Regions from separate parts of the Homo sapiens genome. Here regions 1, 2 and 3 are each linked to region 4. Evidence: fine-mapped expression QTL. A gene starts in region 4. Each other region holds a variant in brackets. All regions are shown on one strand. Distances are between the middles of the regions.

Region 1 (5,147 bases), 560 kb after region 4:
GTTTTTGGGGAGGCTGTGTTCCCTGAGTGATCCTACGATGGGCAGAATATGCACGCCAAGCCACCCTGACGCTTACCTGCAGGGTCTCCTCCTGGCTCTGGGACTGGACAGGTGCTGGCTGCCTCACGATGTAGTTGATCTGCCCCACAATGGTTTGCTGAAGATGCTGAGGAGATTTGGTCTGACTCAGTTGCAGGCTGGGCTGTTGAGCCTGGAGAAGAAGCTCCAAGTCCTTCTGCATTTCCTCCAGCTCAAACTTGTGATGCATTATGTCCATGTTCTGAGAACAGGCAGGGCCAGGAGGGCTCTCGTGCTGACTAGAAGCCAGATGCTGGGATGGAGGAAGAGGTGGGTGTGGCTGCTGTGGGGGAGGGGGAAGGGGAGGTGGGGGATGGGGGAGGGGTGGTGGTGGAGGTGGTAGCTGCTGCTGTGGCTGCTGCTGAAAGTGACTGAGCTTCAGCTTCTGGTGGTGGCCAAACTGGACTTGGATAGAGGGTGTCTGTAAGGTGGGCTGGGCATGGGCTCCTTGCTGAACATCCTGTGGGGGGACAATGCACACGGGCTGGGAAGTCAGCTGCTGCCCCAGCCGCTGGGATGTGCTCTCCTGCTCCACGGGGGGCTGGGTTTCCAGCCAGGGCTGCAGCAGCTTTGGTGGATGAGGGCTGCAGGCCAGCTCTTTCTCCCTGGGCAGCAGGGCAGAGCACTGCAGAGACCCCAGCTGCTGGGGCACCATCTCAGGGGGCTGCCTGAAGCTGTGGGCTGGGTGTATGCTGGGTGGGGGGACCTGGCCTTTGAGGGAAGGCGAGACTGGGGAGCAGTGGGAGCAGCACACAGATGAGGAGCACACTGCTGGAGACTGGAACTTGTGTGAGGGGTGGCTAAGAGCCTCTTGCTGAGCCACTGGAGACTGGTGGCTTTGATAAAAGGGTGATGACCCCTGTAAGCCTCCATAAGCAGGAGCATCTGCCCTGGACATTTGTCCACCTTCAGTAGTTATGCAGCCTGAAAATGCAGAATAGAGAGTTTTTCAAAAGTTTTTCAAGTTGCTCCCACCTTGCTACTTCCTGCTCCTGGGACAAAAGAACCTCATTCAACAATCCTGTACCAGGAACAGAGATTAAGAAACTCAACCCTTGATCTCCTAGACTCGGTCTAGAATGCTGCCAGTAATAGCACCTGTATGCACCTGCTTTGGGGGCCTAGGATATTTGAGAAATTAGTTCAGCTTTTACCAGATGCTCAGCCCTGACTCTGTTTCTGTCCCACTAGGGAAACCACAAGCTCTCTCAAATAGCACCCACTCATTTTTTTCCAACAGAACAGCCCAATCAGACTCTCACAAAAAGAATCAACTTTGGGGTTGGGAGGGAGTATGCTAGAAAGTAGCAAAGGGTAGAGAGCCATGCCTGGGACCAATGAACAAGTTCCCAGATACAGGTGTGGGGAACTGTGTGTTGAGCAAGTAGGACGGAAGAGAGTGGGGAAGCTCTAATACCAGGTGATACAGTTTGGAGCTGTGTCCCCGCCCAAATCTCATGTTGAATTGTAATCCCCAGTGTTGGAGGTGGGGCCTGGTGGGAGGTGACTGGATCGTGGGGGCGGATCCCTCATGAGTGGTTTAGCACCGTCCCTTTGGTGCTGTTCTTGTGATAGAGGTCTCGTGAGACCTGATTTCTTTAAAGTGTGTAACACCTCCCCCTTGCTCTGTTTCTTGCTGCTCTGTCCATGTGATGTGCGTCTTCACCTTCTGTCATGATTGTAAGTTTCCTGAGGCCTCCCCAGAAGCCGAGCAGGTTCCAGGATCATGCTTCCTGTACATCCTGCAGAATCATGAGCCAATTAAACCTCTTTTCTTTATAAATTACCCAGTCTCAGGTATTTCTTCACAATAATGCGAGAATGGACTAATACACCAGGTCAGTGCCAGGCACCGGCACTGCCCCCTGAGGCCTCTAGGTCCCTTGTGCACAAGTAGATCTATGGCTAACTCAGTCTAATGACTCCTTCCTCTCATTATTTTGGTGAGACTTACTTAGAAGAAGTCTGAGCTCCTTAAGGAAAATGTGTTTTATTCACCATTGGTTCTTTGGTGCTCAGCATGGGGCCTAAACAAGAGTAGGTGGCCATCAAAGGTCTGCTGAGTTAAATCAAAGGAAAGAGGGAAGAAAAGAAATAAACCTACATATCATTTGTCACTTTGCCAAGTTCAACAAATTTTCAATAAGATTAACAGCCTCAAATGAAGGCAGCAGCTGGCCATCAGTTTAACACTCGTTAGGCTGTCAACACAGGCACAACTTCAAGCTGTCTACATTCTGCCTAAAGACTGAATGCCAGCAAATGATTGCAGCAGGGAAGAAAAATGCACAAGGCCATGAATTATCTGCTTACATCTCAACTCGAAAGGATATGTCTGTGTGACACAAACATGCACACGCAGTCTCACTGTTGCTGAGATACCCCTGCTTGTGCCCACACGTGTATACCTTTGTGTGACCACAGAGACACACATTCATCTGTACTGCCATACAGCATTCCGGAGAGCAGGGTGACTGTCTTGTCTCCTCCTCAGCAATAAAACCAATGTAACAGGACATTTACACAGAATGGTAAACTCAGATTTCAACTCATCCTGATACAAAGTCCTATATTGCCACTGTTATTTAATTCCTCATCCTCTCCTCTTCCCCCTCAAAAAAAAAAAAAAAAAAAAAAAAAGGTTTGCTGAATGATTCCATGACCACTGGCAGTCCCAGAGAGTGCTTTCTCTTGGGCATATGCTGACCTACCCAGTAAGGTAAGCAATTAAGTCAAAGCCCACAGGGTGGGTAGGCCTGGGTGGGTGGGTCCAAGCTCACCAAGAGAAGCTAGCTGCTTGGTCCAGAAGTTAGGCTCCCAGGTGAATCTGATACTCCAAGGGGAGCCAGGATCTGTGTTACAACTTGTCTCCAGCAATCGCTGCATCTGAAACACAATCTGACAACAGCACCAAAGGTCATTTATTTGGGCATCTTGCACCTAAATGACAACTCCCCTTCCCTTACTCTTTGGACAAGCTGAAAGGCTCAAAGTCATGGCCCTTTAACCTCTGGTCATCCTCCATATTCTCATTCTCTTGCACCTTAGCACCTGTCCATCCTCCCAGCTGATCCCTTTCCTCTTATCAAGGCTCCTGGAACCTACATTCTTTTTTTTTTTTTTTTAATTGAGAC[G/A]GGGTCTCACTCTGTTGCCCAGGCTGGAGTGCAGTGGCGCGATCTTAGCTCACTGCAAGCTTTGCCTCCCAGGTTCACGCCATTCTCCTGCCTCAGCCTCCTGAGTAGCTAGGACTACAGGTGCCCGCCACCACGCCCAGCTAATTTTTTGTATTTTGTTTAGTAGAGACGGGGTTTCACTGTGTTAGCCAGGATGGTCTCGATCTCCTGACCTCGTGATCTGCCCACCTCGGCCTCCCAAAGTGCTGGAATTACAGGCGTGAGCCACCGCACCTGGCCTGGAACCCCTACATTCTTATCTTTTCAGGCCTTAAGTGATTTGTCATTCTCCCTCACTACATCGTTGACTGGCAGCTCCATTCATTCTACCATCACCTCAATTTAAAAGCCTAGTGGGGGCAGGCATTGTCTGAGCTCCCCATTGCTGTACTTCCACTTGCAGGTAAAACACCCTTCTGTCCTACTCAATAGCCCTCTTCCTCTCCCAACACTTTCATCTATTTCTCATCACTAACTCTCCTATTTATCCAGGGCTTTGGCAAGTGTCCAACTTACCCTGCTATCCTCTAGTTAACTAATGTCCCAACGAACATCTTAGCCTCTCATTTCATTGATCTCTTGCATGGCAACCACCTTGTTTTCAGTTTAGTCACCATACCTAGACCCTATTCATCATTTACAACCATTCTACCTATGAGACCTTTAAACTCCAACAACCCACCCTGGTCATAACAAGTTCATGCTCTTTCAGAGTATGTTGTTCAACCTCTCCAAGCCCTGCTCCTTCAGTCCACAGGACTTCCCAGCTTCCTTTCATTTACAGTCATGATATCACTAGTGTCCTAATTCCCTCCCCATCGCCAACTCCTACTCTTAGGTAATCCAGCCATACCAAAGCCATGTTATCTGGGGCCACTTCAGTGATTATGAATTTCAGCAGCACCCCTCAGCCCTTTCTCTTGTCACTTCTTTTCTTGTCATCTTTCTCTTCCACTGCACTCAATGACCATTTAAAATCTTTACTTTGGTGCTACTTACCAATGTTTTAACCCTCTTATTATCACCTCCTATTTCACAGAGAAAAAAAAGACACCATAAAGGATAAATTACCCCAACTTGTATCCCTTCTACCCTCAAACTTAACTACAGCATTGTCCCCTTCCTGTCCTCCCATCTCAGACGAAGGGACTGTCCTTGTGTTTAAGGTCAACCAGTTCACTCTATATCCTTCCTCCTGCTTTCTCAGTGTACTTACCCCACCACACACCCCTCCTCTCTATCTTCAACCTCTTCTCCCATATACATGTGTGCAAATGTTTTCCAAGCTTAAAAAAAAGTTTCCCCCAACTCTGCCATCTTCTCAGGCTATGTTTTTATTTTTCTTCTTTTCACTTCTGTCTCTACTTCGTCACCACCCATCCTCAGTCTCCTCATTCTAGCTTTTGACCCTTCTACTTCACTGGAGCTTCTTTCAGAAGATAGCCTGATTCCCAGATCCAGAGGCTGCTCGTCACTATTCATCTTCTTTCACCCATGCAGCATTGTCAAATGGACCACTTAAAATTGGAAACTGTTCATTTCTGTGTACCACACTCTGTTTTGCTTCTAACCTCTGACCATTGCTTCTCACCTCTGACCACTGCTTCTCACTCTCCTCCAGTCATCATCTTCCTCTGTCTATGCTGAAAATGACGGTATTCCCTGGGTTCCTGACTTTCTCTCTTCTTGCTCCACACACTCTTCCAAGGTGATACCACTGATTTCCTGGTGACTCCTACATCTCCTTCTCCAAAACCAACTTTTCTTCTGACTTCCACACCCATATATTAAAACGGCTTTTTAATGGTAGGTAGCTTGGAGTTGGTTTTGGATGCACTACAGGCACCTTAGATTCAAAGTATTCAAATATAAACTCCATCGACTTCTCTCAAAATT
Region 2 (5,147 bases), 59 kb before region 4:
CCTGCGGGAGAAGCGGGCCTCCGGGGGCTAGGACTGGCGCGAGCGCCCGACCCCCAGGGTGGGCTTGGGCACCCGGACCCTCGGGCATCCGGGACCCAGAGCCTCGGGTACGGCGCAGCGGAGCTCCAGCGAGGGTAGTGTCCCCACACCCACGGGGCAGAGCTGTCGGAGGAGGGCACGCGGCCACTGGGACTAGCGAGCTGGCACCTCTGCCCCCACCCCAGCTGCCCCGCCAGGGTCGCTCCGCCGGGGGACCCCGAGAAAGGGCGCGGAGGGGGCGCCGGGAGGGGCGGGGCAGGGGCCGGGGTGGGCCCCTGGCGGGCGGGGCGAGGAGGGGGCGCCTTCGGCTCTGGGATGCGCCCGCCGGCGTCTGCGCCCCGCCGGCCCTCCGCAGGGACCGAGGCTGGCCCCGGGCGGAGTGTCCCGCTGGCTGCCGGGGACCCGCGAGTCGCTGCCTGTTCCGCGGGGCGAGATGGCAGCCTGGGCCGGCTGTCTGGGCGCAGGAGCGGCGCTCTCGAGTTGCCAGGCTCCGCGCCCGCCCCGCGGGGATGGCGAGCGGCTGCCGGCGTGGGCGGTTTGGAGCTGCGCTCCCCACGCACTCGTCCTGGAGGAAGGAGTCATCCTCCCAGGCGAAATGAAAAAAATAAGAACGGAGTGAGTTGGTCATAAAGCCGAGTACATTTATTCCTAGGTTATGCCTGTTCTACCTTTTGTTGGTGTGTTAAATGCCACCCTTGTATTTAAAATGAAACCATGATGATAGTAGATAGTAGTTTGTTTGTTTGTTGTTTTTAAGTTTCGTAACCCCAAGTCCATCTGCAGAATTCTGGAGTTAAATTTCCTGACCCATGACCCTAGATGGTGAGGGCTGGAAGACAAACTTCATTTACTGGGCTGCTCTCATCTCCGTGAAGTCCTGCTTCCTGTGCTCTCCTTCCCTTAACTCTGCCAAAAACCTCCCTGCATCTTCGACAGCCCTTGTTTGCCTAGATTCAGAGGAACAGGTGTCCCTCCTGCCTAAGGCTAGTTTGCCTAGGACCCCTCCTCACCTTCCCTGAGTCTCGCCCCGTATTAATCCCATCTGTCTCCTCCATCTGCACCTTCGCCTCTTTACTAGTGATCTCTCTTCAGCCTGTAAACTTATTCACCTGTGTCTTGTTTACCTCCTCGAGATGGGCGCAACTGATCCACGTCTGTTTTTTTCCTTTCATTGCCTTCTTTGGGGAAATATATCGTCTGAATTGGTTAATTCTGTTTCTTCATCAGCCCTTCCTTGCACAGCCCCAGCAAATCTCCTGTCCACCTCATGATTCCAGTGCACCTGCCTTTTTGAAAAGTGGTGCTCTCCACGGAGAAGAACTCTATTATTGGAGTATTAAACTTAAAATAACAAAACCTACAAACTTTGGTTCAGATCCCAAATTCACACATTCATTCATTTATTCAACAAACATGTATTGAGTGCGAACTATATCCTGGGCCCTGGAAATAAGGCGATAAAAAGATAGAATTTCCTCCGGGAGATGAGCTCACAGTCTAGATTATATTAGAAATAAGCAGTGACATATTCTGGGAGAAAAACTTAAAGTTGAGCTAATTCCATATAGTAAATAATTTTTCCCTGCAAAAGCAAACCTATAAAAGCAGAAAGACTTTGGAATTAGATAACCTGCATTCAAATCCTGACTCCACCTAGCTAACTTTGGACAAATTACTTCTCCCTGGGCCACAGTTTCTTGGGGAAGTGTTGTGAGTATTAAATGAGGTAATAGGCCTGGCGCAGTGGCTCACACCTGTAATCCCAGTACTTTGGGAAGCTGAGGTGGGCAGATCACTTGAGATCAGTTTGAGACCAGCCTGGCCAACATGGTGAAACCCCGTCTGTACTACAAATACAAAAAACAAAAACCATTAGCTGGGCATGGAGGTGCACGCCTGTAATCCCAGCTACTTGGGAGGCTGAGGCTGGAGGATTGCTTGAGCCGGGGAGGCGGAGCTTGCAGTGAGCCGAGATTGTGTCACTGCACTCCAGCCTGGACGACAGAGCTAGACTCTGTCTCAAAAAATAAAAATAAATAAATGAGGTAATAAATATAAAGGGCCTATCATATTGCCTGGGACTTAGTAATCATGCAACAAGTGGTATAAATTGCTGTTTTATTAATGCATATTGTAAACGTTTCTGGAACTCTAGTCTTCCACAGAAGCTTGGTTTGAAAATCTTGGCCAGGCGTGGTGGCTCACGCCTGTAATCCCAACACTTTGGGAGGCTGAGGCAAGCAGATCACGAGGTCAGGAGATCGAGATCCTCCTGGCTAACACGGTGAAACCCCGTCTCTAATAAAAATACAAAAAAATTAGCTGGGCGTGGTGTCGGGCGCCTGTAGTCCCAGCTACTCAGGAGGCTGAGGCAGGAGAATGGCGTGAACCCGGCAGGTGGAGCTTGCAGTGAGCC[G/A]AGATCACGCCACTGGACTCTAGCCTGGGCAACAGAGCGAGACTCCAGCTCAAAAAAAAAAAAAAAAAGAAAATTATTTTTCTGCTTTCAGACCCCTACATAAAGACATTTACTGGGTTTCTGTCTTCAGAACTCTTTTCTTCTCACCCTGACAATCTCAGTACCTGGGGAGCTATGTGAAGAAAACAACTCACCTGGCCCTTGACCAAACTAACTGAATCAGAATATCCAGGGGTAGGACCTGGGCTCAATGTTTGTTTAAAACTTCGCAGTTGATTGTGCTGCAGCTGGTTTGTCTACTCTCCAAAAGCACTAGTCCACACCACCTCCTCTATGTTCTCATCAGTACTTGTTTTTTAAGACATAAATATTGAATTATTCAAAAATTACACAATACTCAATCAAGCTGTTAAAACCATTACACAAGCAACACATACATTGGGTACATAGCATTAAAAGTGAAAATCTGTGTTCTGCTGACCTCATCCCCATCCTAACTCTATAAGGAACCATTGTTAATAGTTAACTTTCACTTTCCAGCACTGTTCTCTGGTTGCTGCCCCCATCACATCTTTGAACCTGGCAAACACCTTTCCTTCAAGTCCTCACCCAAGTTGACCTCTCCTCCGTGTGTTTATGTAAGCTGTTGTCCGCCTTGCTTCTGGGCCATGTGCATGTCAGTTATCTATTGCCATGTTAACAAGTGACTCCTAAATTTAGTGACTTAAAATAACAACTGTTTTGGCCAGGCGCGGTGGCTCAGGCCTGTAATCCCAGCACTTTATGAGGCCAAGGCGGGCGGATTACCTGAAGTCAGGAGTTCAAAACCAGCCTGGCCAACATGGTGAAACCCTGTCTCTACTAAAAATACAAAAATTAGCCAGGTGTGGTGGCACATACCTGTAATCCTAGCTACTCGGGAGGCTGAGGCAGGAGAATTGCTTGAACCCGGGAGACGGAGGTTGCAGTCAGTGCAGTGGAGATCGTGCCACTGCACTCCAGCCTGGCCGACAGAGCAAGACTGTGTCTCAAAAACAAAACAAAACAAAACAAAAAACACACAAACAAAAACAAAACAACAACAACAAAACAACTGTTTGAGTTAGCACAAGATTCTGTGGATCAGCAATTTGGGCTGGGCTTAGCTGGGCAGTTTTGTGGTCTGGGCCAGGCTCAGCTTTTCTGGGTTGGGCTTGCTCACATATCTGGTGCTCCGGCTGGGAAGGCTAGAGCAGCTGGGCCTTCTCTCCACGTGCCTTCTCATCTTGCAGCAGTCTCACTCAGGTTGGCACACATGGTGGTGGAAGGGATTCCAGTGAGACAGCAGAAGCTGCAGGGTCTCTTGAGGCCTAGGTTTAGAACTTGCACATCACTCTGCTGCCTTGTATTAGTCAAAGTCAGTCAAAATGCCAGCCCACATTTCAGGGGTGGGGAAACAGGCCTTACCTCTTGGAGGCAGGAGCTGAAAATCTATGGCCATTTTTCCAACCTACCAAAATATGATGCCTACATTTTTACAATTTCTGGCTCCTCTTAGGTCCCCACTGTCCACATCTGAGCACATGCCAAAGTGCTCCTCTTTTCCAGTTCACTCTATTCCATTCTATTCTCAGGCTACACCCTGGTCTCAGTTATCAACGCAATGCTTCTAACACAGAAATCTATATCTTCAACTCCAGCCTTTTTGCCAAGACTTAGTCCCACATCTCTAAATGCCTGTAGACGTCTCCATCTAGACATTCAGCCAACAGCTTTAACGCAATAGGTTTAAAATCAGACCTTTCACTGATAACTGTATTCTCTAGTCAGCATCCACAAGCCAAACGGACTCCTCAAAACTTGGACATTGACCTTGACCTCTCCAAATCTCCTTATCTATACCACTGATTGTGATGAAGATAAAAGGAAAAGATCTATGTAAAATGACTGGCACAAAGTGGGTATCATGAAGTCCATTTTTTTCCACAGCTTGGCACCCCATTAACCATTTTGTCTCCACTCAAGCTTCAGTCGTTATCCTCAAAGGCTTCAGTGCCCATATCAGTGACCAAACTAGCACTCTTCACTCCCAATTTCTGGACCTTCCCATTCTAGACCCTTCTCTTCAGTTATTCACAGGATAAATTCCTAGATGATGACAGCTGGAATTGCTTCACTTCTAATCTCATACACATGAATTGCCAGCTCTCTGACCTCAGGCATGTTCCTTATACATTACTCCTGCCATAACACGAAGGTGTCTGCCTTCATGGCCTACCAGCCTTTTCCCGGCCTCTCTTCTCTTCCCAGCTTGTATTACATGGTAGATTATTTCAGTCACTCACTCCAGCACTTTTTATTCCCTCACGTATGCTCAGCACGACTCTAGCCCGGCGTGGATCAATGTTAAAATCTCTATCCCCTTTCTTCTTATAACACTAGAATCCTACAACAAAAATGACTTGCCTGTGCAGGATGTCACCACTTTCATGGTCTTCATCTTCGGCCGGGCCACCAATGCCATCTCTCAGTCTTTCTGCTTCTCCCTGATGAACTTCACTCCCATTGCCCACAACAGCCCTTCCAAACCTTCCGCACTCTCAAGACCCCTCTCTGCTTGACCCTTATCTGCACCCCGTGTGTTATGTAAATGGCCCTGCCTCCTGCTCCTTGGAGAAAAATTGATCACATCAGGCATCATCTTCTGTCACGT
Region 3 (5,147 bases), 23 kb before region 4:
AAGGACCAGGATGTAGAGTCTAGAGAGGACAGGCTGCATCAGCCTGGTGGGATCAGTCTGGAGTGGCCTGTGTGTGTGCGTGTGTGAGAGAGAGAGAGGTGGGAGGAGAATGCAAGATAGTGAGTGAGCTTTCTGAAGTGGGTGGCGCATACCTCACCATTGCTCTCTAAGGCCTCAGCCATTACTCTGGATTATCGCTGGGTGGCGCTGTAAGAAGGGGTGTACCCCTGAGATGGCTTCCCTGTGCCCATCAGGACCCGGTCTGGCCTGAGGCTGCTCTTAGAGTGTCCTGGGACCACCTAGACAGATGTGCTGGCATCTGCCCATCATGGGCCCCAGAGCCCACCCAGCATCTGCTGCACACTGGCTCCTCCTTGCTCAGATGATGGGGTGGTCCAGGAGGCAGGCCCTTACCCTGGCCGCACAGATGCTGGGTGATGGGAGCAGACAGACAGAGGCCCCTCACCCCAGGACTCAGCTCTGCTGCTGATGGGCTGGGGGTGGGGGCAAGGACAGGGCAAGAGTACAGGATGATGACTGGGGGACAGGATAGAGTCCAACCTTCAGGTGGAGCTGAGGGCTGGGACAGCCAATGACAGTGTGTGCCTCTGCCACCGCCTCAGTCTGGCAAGGCATAGGAAAGGAGCACCCCCTTGGAGTCCTGACAGCACCTGTGGAGTTGGAAGCAGGAGCCCTGGCCTCCCTGCTCACCTTCCCACTAGCCCCTTCGCTCAGGGCCCTGTGACTTCTGATCCCTCCCTGTGACAGGGGAGCCTGGGCTCAGCGTTCACTGCAGCCTGGGCAAGGCCCTTAAGCCCCCAAGAGTCCCGCTCTCACAGGGCATGGGAGGAGCTTCCAGAAGCAGATGGGTGTCCTTGTTTGGGTTGGGGGTGCTGGGGAGAGCAGGAAGGAGCTGGCTGCTGGAGCCGCCTGAGGCTGGATCTGGAGGACACAGAGGTGTTTAGCCAACAGTTCTGTCCTATCCCTTCTCAGCTCTCTGAAGTCCTCCCTGCACCTCAAGCCAGGGCCTGACCTCCAGGGAAGCAAGCTGTCACCACGAGGAAGTGCACCCTAGCTTTCCCACCTCGTGCTACCAGGATGCCCCTCACTCTCCTTAATCCAGGGCATGGGCTCAGAGGGCTGGCTGGGGTCTCCTGTCCTGGAATGTGCGGCCATATGGGAATGCCTTGAGTGTGTGAGGGCCATATGGGAATGCCTGTGCGTGGGGGTGGCATGAGTGTGTGCTGTGAGGTGTGAGTTTGGAGAGAAGTATAAATAAATGATGGGCACATGTGTGTGGTGCGCATGCTTGTGCTGACAGGGGAAGGCAGGGGGACGTCTGGAGTGTCAGTGGGTTGTGGTGGGCAGGGTGAGGCATCCATTTCTGTGAAATGCCTGGGGGGAGGGAAAAGGTATTTGGCACAGTACATGTGGGTACAAAGCACACGAAGGAATTTTGGGTACATATGCGCATGGGAGCCTTTGTGGGGTGTGGTTTGGGTATGCAGGTAGGCTGTGTGTGAGGTAGAGCTGGAGGAAAATCTATCTGTGGAGTGTCTGAGGTGATGTGTGGGAGGCAGCTGTCTACAGGTGAGCTTGTCTCTGAGTGGTATATGGGGTGACATGTTGTTGTGTGTGATGTGGTTTGGGAGGGTGAGGGGTGTGCAGGCATGTCCCCAAAACAAGCACATGGTGTGTCTCAAGTAAGGTGTGGGGGCAGTGATGGGAACGAACTACAGTATGTAGGCCAAGTGTGTGGGGGAAGGGCAAGTGGGCGTTTCATTCTCTCCACACGTCACGAGTTAGGAGGCACCATTTTCCCCCTCAAAGTTGAGGAAACTGAGGCCCACAGAGTGGAAACAAGCTGGCTGGATCACACAGCAGGGTCTGTTAGACTCTCAGGATCCCAGCTCTGGCAGCTCACAAGCTAGGCTCTGGAGGGCTGGGGAGGGGACTGGCCCTCTGGGTAATGGCAGTAATGGAGGGTCCCATTCAGTTCTTTAGGGTGACTCTCCTGGAACTGGCCCACAGACAGCTCATGAGAATCGATTGCGCAATAAAGGAAAATGTTTGTAAGCCCTTTGCTCAACATAGCTGTTATTAAGCATCAAACTGGCCGGGCACAGTTACTCGCGCCTGTAATCCCAGTGTTCCTGG[A/G]CCAAACCGAGGGTCAGCTGCTTATTCTCAAGGCCCAGTAACGAGATGCAGATGAACTGGGAGAGAGGGGAGTTTTTATTTCTGTAACCGGTCACAGGGAGAAGGCCTGGAAATTATTGCCAGACCAACTCAAAATTACAAAGTTTTCCAGAGCTTATATATCTTCTAAACTATATGTCTATGTGTAAGTGTGCATTCGTCTAAAGACATAAGTGATTAACTTCTTTTAATCTATAACTAAGATTCGAGTCCTGAAGACCTTCCTCTGGGGCCTCAGTAAATTTACTTAATCTAGATGGGTCCAGGTGCCAGGGGTAATTACCCTCCTTATCTTGTCCCCTGCGAAGTCACGGAGGTTTGGGGAGTTCCTTCAGCCCTCCAATAAAACTTATTTGTGGAGGCCTGGGGAGTTTCTTCAGACCCCCAATAAAACTTGTTTAACCTTAAACGAGGCCTGTTAAGAATTCCTTCATTATTTTGTCATGCTTTAAGGCCCAGGAAAGGCCTAGGCAAAACTCTTGGTGGGCTTTTGTTACATCCCAGCCTTTGTATAAGGGCACTGGTTCTGTCAGCTTTTAATATTTGACTTAACCACTCAGTCAGTACTGAAACAGTTGTTATGGAGGCCTGTGTTAGTGATGCCTGGCCTGCCGCACCAGCACTTTGGGAGGCCGAGGCAGGAGGATTGCTTGAGGCCAGGAGTTCGAGACCAGCCTGGGCAACATGGTGAGACCCCCATCTCTACAAAAAAATACAAAAATTAGCCAGGCATGGTGGTACATGCCTGTAGTCCCAGCTACTCAGGAGGCTGAGGTGGGAGGATCACTTGAGCCTAGGAGGTCAAGGCCACAGTGAGCCGAGATCACACCACTGCACTCCAGCCTGGGCTACAGAGCAAGATCCTCTCTCTCAAAAATTAAAAAAAAAAAAAAAAAGAAGCGGTATAAATTTAACATTAAACAAGTTATGTTTACAAAGGTAATATACTGAAAACTCACCACTTCGTATTCATTTTACTGCCTTTCCCTGCGCTTGTCTGTTGTGTCTGCGGGGTGGAACTGCCACGTGACCGTGCACTGCTGAGCATCTCCTCGCACTTCGATGCTCAGTCACATCACAGATTGGCCATGGCGAGGGTGGCTAGACCAGGGGAGTCAACAGGTGCTGCACATTAAGACCTGGTTTATTGTTTTGTTGATTGTCTAGACCTGAGAAAGTGATGGGAAAAAATACTACTAATGCAGATTACATTTTAAAGGGTGTCATGTTTATAGTTGCTCCATGGTGAATAGCAGAAAACAAAGATTTTTCCAGTATTCAGAAACTATTAACCTATTCAGCAAAGAAGTCACTCCGACCACCAGTGAAGGAGTGAAGTTCTGACATGTCTTTGTTGTTTCACTTTCAACTTACTTGTTAACATAAATGAAAATATCAAGCAGCATTAAGCTGGAACTACAGTAATTTGTCATTGCAACCGTAGGTTGGCTACAGATAAAGAGTTAGGCGAAACTCATTGAATGGGTTGATTTCTGGGACAGTCATCTGGCTATATGGAATTTACAATAAAGAATATTGGATATTTCATTAGTATTTGTAAATTATGTGCTATACATCCTTTGTGTCAGTAAAATTTATAATAAACTTATTGAGTCTACGCATGCAGACATTTTCTGGAGAGCTTGTTGTTAAATGTCACTGTTAACACCCCGTAGGCCCTCCATTACACATAGTCCCAACATGTCTCCTTACTGTGCAGACGGTGAGGTAGGGTGGGGTGGAGGGACAGATGTAACTTGCAGAGACCCTGGGAGCAGTGTCTTAGGTTTCCAGACAAGCTGTGGCTTGTCACTAGATCAGCCTGACCTCCTCCTGGCCGGGGGCACTGGGGCTCAGGTGGGGGTCCCGTTCATTGGTCCCTTCTCTGTAGCAGGCTCAGGGATTTACAGGTCAGAGGAAGAAGACGTGGTCACTGCCTGTATGGAGCTCACAGCCCAGCAGAGGAGACATCCAGTCGCAGTTAGTTACACCCTGGAGAGTACAGGGGCAAAAAAAGAAGAAATTGCCCAGCTGAGGCAGGAGCGAGGCTGGGACAAGAGGAGCTGCTCAGCGGAACAGTGCCTCTCGACATTTAGTGTGCAGCATCCACAGATTTGTGTTAAAAATGCGGAGATTCTCTTTTGGCAGGTCTGGGCAGGGTGGTGCCCGGGAGTATGCTAGGGGATGGTGAAGCAGGTACCCAAGGGCACACTGGGAAAAGCCTTGATCTGAGGAGACGAGAGGGTGTGTGCTGAGGCAGGAGATGAGAAAGAAGTTCTGCGGGGAGATCTGCCGGGAGTTTAGGAGTGGCTGGAGCTAAGCCAGCCTGGAGGGGAGACAGCAGAGCAAGGCAGGAGAGGGGTCAGGGGGCAGGTCCTGCAGCCTCGTAAGCCTCATGGAAGAGCTTGGTTTGTATCCTTTGGAACGAGGAGCAGTGGAAAGAGCCTTGTCAGCAGACAAGTGACATGCTCGGGTTGGCTTTTAAAAGTGTAATGTTCCTGGAGCAGGCAGAACTGCAGTCAAGGAGACCAGAAGGAGGCTGGGGACATGTGAGGCCTCGATCCGGGCAGAGGCACTGGGGACAGGGGAGGGGACCGATAGGAGGGCTTCATGGGTGGAGCCACAGGCGAGATGAGGAGGGTTAGGGTGGGGCCTGGGTTTCTGGGGTGATGACTGAGCGAATGGCAGGACTATGCACATTGCCAGAAAACAGGAGGAAGAGCAGGTCTGGAGTAAGGTGAGTTGCTTTGAACCTGGAGACTTAGAGGTATCCCTGGAGGGGCCCAGAGGCATTTGGGGCTCAGGGGAGCCATCAGGAAGTAGATTTGGGAGCCCCATGGATAGGTGGGAAAGCCAAGAGAGTGAAGAGGTCACCTGCGGAGAACACAGTCACAAGGGTCCAGAACTAGTGCTGAAGGGCCAAGAACTCAGGCCTGCCTGGACCTTGTTTC
Region 4 (5,147 bases):
TGCAGGATTTGGGCAGGTGGTGAGGGAGGCATGTTGGGATTGCTGTGTGGTGGTGTTTCAGTCCAGATAACCTTGTTCCTGGGGCTAAATTTGAAAAGCTTATGCCCTTCTTCGAGGGTCATGGTTATAGTGCAGTTGTAAAAATATAACTTTTGATCATGGCCTAGTATAATATACATCATATGACTTTCTGGAGTAGCTTTTTGATGGAAGCCAAGGACGTAAACTTAAAATGTCAACCACGGAAGTCATTTGAGTGGAAAAAGCCATCATGCATTCTGAGTAGAATGTTAACACTCATGCACTCCATAGAACTCGAAGAAGCACACACGTCATTCTCCTGCACGCGTACCATCCAACAAATGTTCTTGTGCAGTCCTGTTCAGACTGCAGGGCCATCTCTCACACACATACACACATTGCTGCGTACACTGAAACAGTCCTGCTGCCCCCAACTTCCCATGCACACACACACTCAAGGCATACACTGGCACACAGTCCCTTGTGTGCCAGTGTATGGGACTCACACAACCCATGTGCATACACACATGTACACACATACACACTCATATTCATGCGTACACTGGCGCTCAGTCCCACTGGCTCCCCCACATGTACACACACTCACACTCATGCATACACTGGCGCTCAGTCCCATGGTTCCCCCACATCCCATGTACCTATGTAACTTCTGCAGAAAGAGACTTGGAAAGCCATCTTACTTCTGCACCTCACTCTGCCTCCAGATTTTGCTCCCTTAGGACAGAGCCTAAACTGTCTATTTAATAGATTCAATTACTCCAGGCTCCTGAGACCTTCCAACTAAATTCTGATTGCTTTAAGGTGTCAGGTAATTTGGGAATAAAGGGAGGAAAACAGCTTCAAATTCTTGAAGGGAAAGTCTTTTAGACTCTAGCTGTCTCTGACATGGTAGCTACTAATTGCAACTCAGGAAGGGGTGGCCTGGAGGGCGCGGCCTCCAGGGGTCAAAGCTTCTGATCTCTAGGCAAGGTTCTGCCCTGAAGGACAGAGGCCTCTGGGGCAATGCTTTGCTGCTCTGCTGCGGTCTCCAGGGTAGGGACCAATCTCTGCTGCCCTTCCTGGAAGGCCAGCAGAGTCCAGGCCAAGCATCCCAGCAGGCAACAAAACAGCCCTGCTTTCTGCCTTCTGCACCCCACTCCCAGGTGTTTTATTTTGTCTGCTCTCTGTCCCCAGTGACAGTGACAGCTCTTGGAGGTTGATAAATAATCAGAGGTCATAGTGTTCAGAGAGCATCAATGTTGTGCCCGACAGAGATGGATCTGACCTGTCCTGAGCTCCAGAAGCCTGGAGAGAGAGGCCATGTGTGTGTGCATGCATGTGTGTAGGTGTGTGTAGGTGTGCGTGTGTGTGTGCATGTGTGTAGGGGTGTGTGTGTGTGCACTACATGAACTGTGATTGGCCAAAAGGAGGCTGAGGGTAAGTGCTGTAGACCCAGACCTTTTGTGTGTGAATGCTAGCTTCATCATTGACCAGCTGTGTGACTTTGGGCAAGATCCTTGCCTTCTCTGTGACTCAGTTCCTCTGCTGTGAAATGGGTATGCTAATGGTGCCTACCTTCTAGGGTGGCTATGAGGATTAAACGAATTATAATATGTACGTAGCACCTAACACAGCTCCTGACGCCCAGCAAATAATCCAAATATTGTGGGTTATTGTGTTTTATAATTAATGGGCAAGAGAAGGCAAGGCTGAAGGGCTGGGAGAGCCCTGGGGTGGGGGTCTGGCTGTAGCCCCAGGGCAGCAGGATGAGCCCCCTCCCTCAGCCCCCTTGGCTGTTCTCACACTCTCTGCGGGGCAGTCCTGACCGCCTATTTATCATCAGAAGATCCCCGCACAACACTCTTCTGGCGCGGTTGGCGCGGCAGAATCCAGGATGCACACGAGGACGCCCACGGGGCGTGTGGGGACCGTGCCCCTCCGCAGACCTCTCCCGGATCACCTGCTCCACACGCAGGCCTTGGTGACCCCTCAGCCTGCTGCTCCTTGCTTCCGCCCGCCCTGCTGTGGGTCCCGCACCTTCTCAGTGTGCCATGCCTTGCATTCAAGCTGGTCCTAGTCACAGCCAGGACCTCCTCAGCGCGCAGAGACTTTCAGATGATCTTTGTAGGGGTTTTTGCCTCCGGTCAACTGCGCCCCTTAGGAAGGGCTTTGGAGGACACAGATCACAGAACAGTTTCAGCTCCACCACTTCCTAGCTTTACGGCCTTGGGCATCTCAGCATTCCTATTCTCTGGGTTATAGGGATATGATGTTTGTCTCTCAAGGCTACTGTGGAGATTACATACTAGAAATTTGCAAGGGCTGGGAATGCAATAGACCGTAAATGTTCCCCTTCCCTTGACGCTATAGCTTAGATGGGAGGGAGCCACTGCTGAGGAAACACCTCCTTAACCCAAAGACAGAGGGTTCCCCAGGCGGGGGTGTGGGAACTCGGAGGTGGGGGTGAGGGAAGGCCAACCTCCACGCTTCGGCCCGGAGGTTCCCCCGCCTCTTCCTGCACGACTGGATTCCTTCTCCATCCGCGCCTCCGGCCCGGTCCCTGCCCCGCCAAATCCGCGCATCGGTTTCCCATCCCATAGCGCAGATAGGTAGGGCAGGTACACAGGGAGGTGTTCGAATGATCCCCGTTTCACAGAAGACGAAACTGAGGCTGGGAGGCCTGGGGACTGGCCCGGCTGCAGCGCCGCCGTTAGCCGAAGGTGGGAGCCGGCGCGGTCACGCGCATGGAGCGTGGATCGCGACGATTTCGGGGGAGGGGGCAAGGGCGCTCCGCAGGCCCTGAGCCGGCCGGGGGGTGGGGTCTCTGCGGGGCGGGGCGGGGCGGGGCGAGGGAGAAGGGGCAGGCCGCCGCTGCCACGCAGTACTCCCGCCTTGGCGCCAGAGGGGCGCGGGACGGTGCGGTCGGCCTCCCCGCCTCCACGCGCGCGCACGACCCGCGCACTCCCGGAGCTTCGCCCATCTCGCCTCGCCGCGCCGCGCAGGCAGCCGCTCGCAGAGCCAGCAGCCGGGGCCCTGGCGTGCAGCGCGGGCCTCGGCGGGGCCCAGCGCCCCGGCCCGGGAGGATGCGGCCCGGGGCGGCCCGGGAGCTGAGCAGGGCCCCCGCGCCGGCCCCTCCGGGCCCCGGCCTCCAGAGCCGCAGCCACCGCCCCGCCCCCGAGAGACATGACTTCCAAGCCGCATTCCGACTGGATTCCCTACAGGTACGCGGGCGCCGGGCCGGGGCGCCCACCACTCCCGACTCGGGACGTGAGCTGGCTGGGGATACGCGGCCGGGGCGCAGGGCACCGCTGCCCTCCCCACCTATCCCAGCACTGGGGCGCGGGTTGGAGTCGCTGGTCCTTCCTCCCTCAACTTTGAGGGCCCCTGCGGACTGCTCCCGCCTGCCCCGCTCCACCCCCTTATCTGCCAGGGTTGCTGGAAGGGGCCTGTGTGGGCCTTGTTGGGTCAGGCAGCACCATGTGGCCGCCTGGGGAAGGAGTCCACACTGCTCTGAGCCCCCTCCTAGGCCCAGAACCCCAGTCACACGCCTGTGCAGGGTGCGCGCACACGCTCATACATCTGCACGCATGCACCCACAGGACGTCCCTGCCTTGGGCCAAAGACGCTCCTGCTGGTCGGTTCACACTCTCAAAGCATGGATCCGTGAAGACAGTTATTCTGAACCAAGAGCACACCAGTGGTCATGTGGACATGCACCCGTATATTCTACACACAAGAATTCTTGGGCTCACAAAGACACATGCCTGCATATCTGTGCACGTCCACCTCCTGTATCTGGAGAATAACTGACACCTGCTTCTCACTCACAAGTGCTACTCAGTCTCTTTCAGACACTGAATAATCTACTTGCTAGCAGGTCTATACCTAGACACACACCAGCTCACAGTACATAGAACTGCCCTCACATGCAGAAAGGCACTCAAGAATCCAGGCACACTCAGGGAAGCCCCCCACCCTCTGCTGCCAGGCACTGTGGTCTATCTCAAGGATGGCTGGGCTTTCCCATTTGCCTGGGAAGGGGGCGGGGAGGTGGTCTCTGGGGGGCCCCTCACAGGTGCAGGTCTTTCCCTATCCACTCTACTCCATTCTATTACCAGGGAAGGGAGCTCATCGCCATGGCAGCGCCAGATTCTTGGCCACCCATTGGCTCCTTGGTTGCCATGGGCTACGGGGCTGTCTCTGTGGAAAATGGGTGCTGGACTCCTAAGGCCCACTGTGTTATTGTCGACCCAGGTGCACGTGCTAGCGGACGGCAGGATGAGATCCTCAGGTCCCGCCTTGTAACACAGCTTGCTCTCTGTTAGAGCCTCATACCAGTCACTGATAGAAAATAGTTCTGACAGGGCTCTTCTCTGAGTCTGTCCAGACAGCGTCCCAAATGGAAACCAGCTGAAACCGCCCAAGGCTTCTTAAAAGCAGATCCTTCTGAAAACAGGCACGTGGCCTGGGAACTCAGGGTTTCTCTTGAGAATTGTTACCTCTAATCTCAGCTCCTGTGGGGGATTCAGGGGTTTCCAGGTTATTTTGTGTCTCTCCCCACAACCACCAGCAACACCCTCACACGTGCGCACATACAGGTCACCCACAGGCTCTCCTGCAGACACATGTAGTCACACTTCAGTCTCACATGGATTAGGGAGCTGTTTCCATCATGGAACCAGGGACTGGGGCTGTGCTGACTGAGAAGAGCTGCTGCGCCAGACAGACGTCCAGGCTGGGGCACAGGTAGTTTCTGGAGGATCCTGGCCTTTCTTGGCACATGTGGGCTGAGGACCTTCTAGAAGACAGTGCAGCCCCATGGAGCGTCATCAACCTTTTCTAGCCACGCGGCAGAGGTGCCTGGGCGGTGCTTGTGGGCTGAGTGGACTCCGGTGCTGTGGAAGTACCTGTGTGCGGGGGTCCAGATGGCAGGGTGGTGGCCATGGACCGAGGAGGGTGGGAGGGGCAGCACTTACGGCTGTGGAGATTATGACGTGGTTAGGATCTGGCAAACTGGAGGTTGGGCCAGGCCAAGACATGGTTCTAGAAAGCTTCTCCCAGGGAGCCAGGGACTAAAGCCACTTGTAGAGAGTGTGCAGGGGTCTTAGAGAAAATATGCCTCAAAC

Which allele goes with the higher level. Positions count from the first base shown, and alleles are read on the strand shown. Sizes are in standard deviations (SD) of each study's normalised expression. Not every link is listed here.
As copies of G replace A in region 2, the expression in pancreas of the gene that starts at base 2,905 in region 4 goes down (large effect, 0.77 SD a copy in GTEx).
For the expression in breast of the gene that starts at base 2,905 in region 4, G is the low allele of the variant in region 3 and A is the other (small effect, 0.18 SD a copy in GTEx).

What was found. PIP is the estimated chance that this variant, and not a neighbour inherited with it, causes the effect. A credible set is the group of variants that fine-mapping cannot tell apart.
Region 1: its variant is the best candidate, but not a certain one, in a credible set for the expression of TUB in ovary (GTEx, PIP 0.88).
Region 2: its variant is the best candidate, but not a certain one, in a credible set for the expression of TUB in pancreas (GTEx, PIP 0.84).
Region 3: its variant is the best candidate, but not a certain one, in a credible set for the expression of TUB in breast (GTEx, PIP 0.89).

What each region holds. Positions count from the first base shown.
Region 1 is chr11:8,640,151-8,645,297 of GRCh38, forward strand. It overlaps TRIM66 (tripartite motif containing 66), which reads right to left. Exons shown (of 25, transcript NM_001388022.1): 13 at 2,859-2,976; 14 at 77-1,002. Among named protein-coding and RNA genes, the nearest start is that of TRIM66, 40 kb to the right of the region's middle. The variant G/A (reference allele first, on the strand shown) is at 3,213.
Region 2 is chr11:8,019,410-8,024,556 of GRCh38, forward strand. It overlaps a transcript of TUB not described here. Among named protein-coding and RNA genes, the nearest start is that of CASC23, 5.5 kb to the left of the region's middle. The variant G/A (reference allele first, on the strand shown) is at 2,456.
Region 3 is chr11:8,055,146-8,060,292 of GRCh38, forward strand. TUB-AS1 (TUB antisense RNA 1) reads left to right here and starts at 4,893. Exons shown (of 3, transcript NR_120538.1): 1 at 4,893-4,933. It also overlaps a transcript of TUB not described here. The variant A/G (reference allele first, on the strand shown) is at 2,158.
Region 4 is chr11:8,078,307-8,083,453 of GRCh38, forward strand. It overlaps TUB (TUB bipartite transcription factor), which reads left to right and starts at 2,905. Exons shown (of 12, transcript NM_177972.3): 1 at 2,905-3,242. The coding sequence starts at 3,205. RefSeq lists an enhancer at 4,856-5,147.